Homo sapiens: one gene and its partner. The protein of the gene in region 2 purifies or fractionates together with the protein of the main gene of each other region. This does not show direct contact. Each region holds a gene or a part of one and is shown on either strand. Other genes may lie near its edges. The genes, in order: GALNT12 and CD8B.

Evidence for each region.
Region 1: the proteins of CD8B (region 2) and GALNT12 purify together in Homo sapiens (affinity purification with mass spectrometry; one large-scale study listed by BioGRID and IntAct). This does not show direct contact.

Annotation. Positions count from the first base shown.
Region 1 is NC_000009.12:98,845,407-98,848,185, forward strand, and holds part of GALNT12 (polypeptide N-acetylgalactosaminyltransferase 12), read left to right. Parts: intron 1-570; coding exon 571-717; intron 718-2,779. UniProt on the Homo sapiens protein: Catalyzes the initial reaction in O-linked oligosaccharide biosynthesis, the transfer of an N-acetyl-D-galactosamine residue to a serine or threonine residue on the protein receptor.
Region 2 is NC_000002.12:86,841,316-86,845,138, reverse strand, and holds part of CD8B (T-cell surface glycoprotein CD8 beta chain isoform 5 precursor), read left to right. Parts: intron 1-180; coding exon 181-217; intron 218-2,761; coding exon of another isoform or gene 2,762-2,819; coding exon 2,820-2,832; coding exon of another isoform or gene 2,833-2,882; 3' UTR 2,883-3,823. UniProt on the Homo sapiens protein: Integral membrane glycoprotein that plays an essential role in the immune response and serves multiple functions in responses against both external and internal offenses. In T-cells, functions primarily as a coreceptor for MHC class I molecule:peptide complex.

The DNA of each region.
Region 1 (2,779 bases), on a different chromosome or scaffold from region 2:
GGATGGGGCCAGCAATCAGCATTTTTAACAGTCACTGTAGGTAGTTCCTAGTACACTCAGGTAGGAAAACCATTGTCCGGGAAGAACCAAGTCTTCCCGTTAGCGGTCACATTGTCTGCTTGTGCACAGCACTTTACATCTTCTAGGAACTGTCATATTGGGGGTTTGGGAGGAGAGACTGAGGAAAAGGAGAGGAAGTAGCTAGTCAAGGTCACAGAGAGCCCCCAAGAGCTAGTGCTGCGATGGGTCCATTTCCCTTCCTCCCATCCCACACCAACACAGCATTCAGCACTGCAGGCAGGAGGTGACATGCACCAGCCCTGTCTCCCTGTCTAGCAAGCTGGGCAGGCATGGGAAGGGCCATTTCCTCCACGCTCATGAAGCACTGCAGTAGCGGTTCACTGAGGGCTGTGGGATGCGGAGGAACCCATCACACAGGCTCGTGTTGGTGGTGACGCAGGTGCATGACCCCACCCATGCTCTCGTGATCCCAGGTTCTTGTCCAGCGATCTTTCCTCTTCCCACATCAGTGGAAAATGTTGTGTTACATGTTGGCTGCCCCATTTTTAGTTTTTCGAGTACACGTCCCAGAAAGAAATACGCTATAACACCCACCAGCCTGAGGGCTGCATTGCTGTGGAAGCAGGAATGGATACCCTTATCATGCATCTCTGCGAAGAAACTGCCCCAGAGAATCAGAAGTTCATCTTGCAGGAGGTAGGTGAACTCTCTCCTTCCTTCCTGCTGACAGTCCCTGGGCTATAAGGGAGAGTGTGAGAGTCAGACGTTCTCTCTGGCATAGTCCTGGTGAGGATCAGGGATGTGGCCATGCATGGACAGGAGCTCTGGAAGACCTGGAACCTCAGTCCCAGTGAGCCTGGGGGGCGGTGATGGCAGGAGATTGGAGTCCCCTGGCACACGGTGTCATTAGCACTGCCTTCCTTCCTCATTGTCCAGTCCCTTTTAGTCTTTTCCATTTCCCTTGCACCCCCATGAGCTGCAGGCACCGACATGGAAACAGCTCTTACAAATGCATTCAGAGATGAAAGGGCTTTAAATGAGTAAGCCAAATAGCCCAAGTGTAAGGATGTTAGCCAAAGTGTTAGATCCAGATATAAGCCACCCCACCTCTCTAAGCCTTGTTTTTCCCAGCTTTAAAATAGGTACAATAGGCCAGGCACAGTGGCTGACGCCTGTAATCCCAGCACTTTGGGAGGCCAAGGCAGGTGGATCATCCGAAGCCAGGAGTTCGAGACCAGCCTGGCCAATATGGCAAAACCCCATCTCTACTTAAAAAAAAAAATAGCCAGGTGTGGTGGCATGCCCCTGTAGTCCCATCTACTTGGGAGGCTGAAGCAGGAGAATCACTTGAACCGGAAGGCGGAGGTTGCAGTCAGCCGAAATCATGCCACTGCACTGTAGCCTGGGAGACAGAGCGAGACTCCGTCTCAAAAAAAAAAAAAAAAAAAGGTGCAATAATAGCAGACTTACTTTACTGAGGATTAGATGCATAGCCAGAAATATTCTTTGGAAACTATAAAGCTCGATAGAGATTAGTTGTTGCTTGTGGTATTATAACCAAGAAAACACCTCTGATAGAGTAGTCTCCCTGGATAGTCACAGTTGATTTGAAACTGAGGGTTACCTCAGACCTGAGGGTGCTGGCCCCACCACACTTGCAGTCAGCTTGCATCAGGACTTGTAAATCGATCATATCCTTTGACTCACTAAAAAGCATGTGAGGGAATAAATCCAAAGAAAATCATTTGAAAGAAAAAAATTCATTGTTTTTTATCTCCCTGGGCAGCTTTCACTCCCAATATACTGCTTATAAATGGGTTTATTCTAAAGATGATTAAAAGCTGGAATATGTTTTCCTGCAGAAAAATGTTGTCACTAGCAATGACATTTGCAGGCTGCCCAGAAAAGCCACACACCATGGTGTTACCTATTGAATACAGGAAAATAAGAAGGAAAAATACTTCTGCACACCCCAGACGTCTCTGATCTTCTTGAATGTCCTCCTCTTCCCATCTTTCTCCCAACCAGAAGCCATTGTAAGCCCTCAAGGAATGGTAGTGGACACTAGAAACAATAAAATCAGTTTGACATATCAAAAATTTTATCTTAAATTTCAGTGACCATTTAAGGAAAAGGAAGTTTGTTCAGGAGGCTGGGAAGAAGGATACTGAATTGGATTTTTTACCTTTCTTCAGGACGCTTAATACTTTGATTCATATGTGAAAAGGATACAGCTTGATTTATTATATTTCATCAGTCATGCCCTAAATATATATATATAAAACAAATATATATTGAACAGAAACATATGTGAATTCTGAAGGAAATGTCCCCACTTATATTCACTAGACCATAATAGAAAGCTTAGTTCTTAGGGCTGGATCTTTTTTTTTTTTTTTTTTTTTTGAGACGGAGCCTTGCTCCACCAAGGCTGGAGTGCAGGGGTGCAATCTCAGCTCACTGCAACCTCTGCCTCCTGGGTTCAAGCGATTCTCCTGTCTCAGTCTCCTGAGTAGCTGGGACTACAGGCGCCCGCCACCACGCCCAGCTAATTTTTTGTATTTTTAGTAGAGATGGAGTTTTGCCATGTTGGCCAGGCTGGTCTTGAGCTCTTTGGCCTCAAGTGATCCACCTGCCTCAGCCTCTCAAAGTGCTGCGATTACAGGCGTGAGCTACTGTGCCCAGCCTTGTATTTTCTTATGTAGGCCTAAAAACCTCTGAAATGTCATTTCTTGGATTCTACAAAACATGAGTTTGG
Region 2 (3,823 bases):
ACTCAGGTTTTCAGTGAGCATTAAGGGGATTAAAATGTGTAAAGTGTTTGGGCCAGGGTCTGGGACCAGGGAGGTGGGCTGAGGTGTCAGCTGCCCCTGTGACAATCCTCCTTGGCCTCTGGGGCTCAGCGCAGTGACCCACAGCCCACACTGACTGGCGCCCTTGCTTTCCTCTTCCAGGCCGGCGGAGGAGAGCCCGGCTTCGTTTCATGAAACAGTAAGTGTATAACCTGGGTGTGGCCTTGGGTTCCTCAGCCCCTGCTGCAGCTTGCAGCCTCTAACTGCAGCGAGGAGCCAAAGTCAGACCTCATCTTCCAAAGATCATAGACTCGGCCGGGCATAGTAGTGCACACCTGTAGTCACAGCTACTCGGGAGGCTGAAGCAGGAGGATCACTTGAGCCCAGGAGTTCAAGGCTGCAGTGAGCTATGATGGTACCACTGCACTCCAGCCTGGGCAACAGAGTGAGACTCCATCTAAAAAAAAAAATTACAGACTGTATAAATAGATGGGGTGATAGAGTTCAGGAACCTAAGAGATAACCTAAACAAACAAAAACCTGACCAGTAAGTTAAATGTATTTCAAGAACATTCTTAGCTCTCCTGAGGAGAGCAATCAGGCTTTGCATGCACAGAATACCGCAGAGTATCCCAAACTCATCCCATCCGTTATTTCATCCCACCTATTATTTCATCCCCTTGGTACTGTGTGAGATAAGGGGTTATCACCCTCATTTGACAGATCAGTGGAGAGACTACTGGAATCGGATTTGAAGACCAGCCTCTTCTACCAGCCATTGCTTTCCTTCCCTAGGAGCTGCCTTTGTCCCACCTGCTGCCCTCGACCCCATCTGGGTCCCAGGAGTTGACAGAGTCACATAGCACTCTTGGGGCCCACTAAGCTGAGAAAGAGCCTGTACTTACCCTGGGCTGGGCTGGGACCTTTAGTGGTGGCCATTTAGTCACCACCTTTGCAAGTTGCTTTGCCCTGGTAGGGCAGTGACATTAGGTCCTGGGTCTTTCATGAGGCTGTTGGAAGCCATCCTGGGCCAGGGCAGCATTCCTGCATTTGATTTTTGTTCCTCACAACAGAGACTGTTTCACATCTGCCTATCCAGTTAATTACATTTGATCCTTAGAACAACCCCCTCTATACAGAAATGTTTGGGGGAGCAAAAGTACACAACTCTAAATTGAAGAGGGCAACAGGTTCTCCTGCTCAAAAGCTCCAGCTTTAGGTGGAGACAGGGCTGGGTTTGAATCCCGTCTGCCAATCACCATGTGACAGCCAGCAAGTCACTTCACGTCTCCAAGTCTCGGATTTCTCGTCTGTTAAATGAGCTAACAGTGCCAATCTCACAGTCAGTGTGAGGACTCACTGGGGTATTATCCTTAAAGCATGTGGCCCCAGGACCCCGGAGTCAGAGCACAAGCTCAAGTCACTTCAGTAAATTCCACTCTGCAAGTGCAGCAATGGACAAACAAAATGTATTTTTGAATACTCTAAAATTGTAAATAGCCATATAAATTCATATTACTATATGCTCTGCATTGTTGTACACATTATATTTATATCGAGAGTGGCTTAAACATGCCTGCTGGATTTTATGGGCAATTTTCAATGATATTTTAATTGTGTACAATTTTCACCTTGTGTGTTGGATTTAGAAGCTGCCCCCTACCCAAGAGATAATAACTTGAGTGTAGCTGTCTCAGGCCAGACCTCTAGAAAGTTCCATTCAAGGCCGGGTGCAGTGGCTCAAGCCTGTAATCCCAGCACTTTGGGAGGCCCAAGGCAGGTAGATCGCCTGAGGTCAGGAGTTTGAGACCAGCCTGGCCAACATGGTGAAACCCCATCTCTACTAAAAATACAAAAAATTAACTGGACGTGGTGGCAGGCGCCTATGTAATCCCAGCTACTCGAGAGGCTGAGGTAAGAGAATCACTTGAACCCCGGAGGCAGAGGTTGCAATGAGCAGAGATCACACCATTCCGCTGCAGCCTGGGCAACAAGAGTGAAACTCTGTCTCAAAAAAAAAAAGAAAGTTCCTTTCAAAATGTCTCCCATGATGACCTTTCATGGAAAGTAAGTCCCTCTCTGGTACTAACTGTGGTCTGGGTCTGTCCCCACCCCTTCATTTTAACTTGCTCCCCAGTGATCTGATGCCAGTTTTGGGGAGGCTGGATGCAGGACCTCATGCTTTTGCAAGCCCAGGATCAGCTTGAGGCAGGGAAGGGGCTCTGGGTGGTCGTGGGGGGACCCTGAGACCTCCTCACTCTCTTCATTTTGAACAGACGTACTCTCTTCTATTGTCTGGGTTTACACTTACCTGTAACATGTCATTTGAACAAAAGGGTTTGTGGCTTCAAAAAAGCTTGAAAACCACCTCTGGTTTTGCTCTCATGATCCAGGCATGGAGGAAATAGCCTGTGGTGCTCACAGATCTGAGTTGCGATTTGAGGTAGTTGTTCCCCAGCCTCTAACTGTCCTTAGAAAATCATCCCATCTGCAGGCTAATTTCTTCTGGCCCCTTGATATAAATTTGTGATTCTCTTAGATTATCTTAGAGGTACTACAGGAAGTAACCCAATTCAAAGCTACCGTTCTTTGAGCTGCAGTTTTGTTTTGTTTTGTTTTTTAGCCTTAACAATCTTTTTAATGACTAAGATGGGCCCTAGAAACATACTAACAAAAAACTCTCGGCCCCAGGCTACTTGGAGTAGAACTCTGCATTCTCATTTGCCATTTGTCTCTGTTACAGGAAATTCAATATCGTTTGCCTGAAAATAAGTGGTTTCACAACTTGCTGTTGTTTTCAGATTTTACAAATGAGCAGAGAATACGGTTTTGGTGTCCTGCTACAAAAAGACATCGGTCAGTAACGAGCACGATGTGGAAAAATGAGAGAAGGGACACATTCAACCCTGGAGAGTTCAATGGCTGCTGAAGCTGCCTGCTTTTCACTGCTGCAAGGCCTTTCTGTGTGTGATGTGCATGGGAGCAACTTGTTCGTGGGTCATCGGGAATACTAGGGAGAAGGTTTCATTGCCCCCAGGGCACTTCACAGAGTGTGCTGGAGGACTGAGTAAGAAATGCTGCCCATGCCACCGCTTCCGGCTCCTGTGCTTTCCCTGAACTGGGACCTTTAGTGGTGGCCATTTAGCCACCATCTTTGCAGGTTGCTTTGCCCTGGTAGGGCAGTAACATTGGGTCCTGGGTCTTTCATGGGGTGATGCTGGGCTGGCTCCCTCTTGGTCTTCCCAGGCTGGGGCTGACCTTCCTCGCAGAGAGGCCAGGTGCAGGTTGGGAATGAGGCTTGCTGAGAGGGGCTGTCCAGTTCCCAGAAGGCATATCAGTCTCTGAGGGCTTCCTTTGGGGCCGGGAACTTGCGGGTTTGAGGATAGGAGTTCACTTCATCTTCTCAGCTCCCATTTCTACTCTTAAGTTTCTCAGCTCCCATTTCTACTCTCCCATGGCTTAATGCTTCTTTCATTTTCTGTTTGTTTTATACAAATGTCTTAGTTGTACAAATAAAGTCCCAGGTTAAAGATAACAAACGGCTCCTGTGACATAAACGTGCGAAAGCCCATCTACAGCAAAGACATCAGTGCTCCGTGGAACAGAAACCAGAAGGAGAAAATTTGTACATCCTCCTTTTGCACCTGAGATCCTCATTTGCCCGACGTTGTAGGTGTGGAGAGTCCTAGAGAGGCTAGGAAGCGCCCAGGGCACCCAGAGCCAGGCTGCAGGTGCCTCAGGCCCCTCTCCCAGCCCACTCCCAAGCTGAACTAGCACGTGTTCATTTCTACCGCGGGTTGAACCG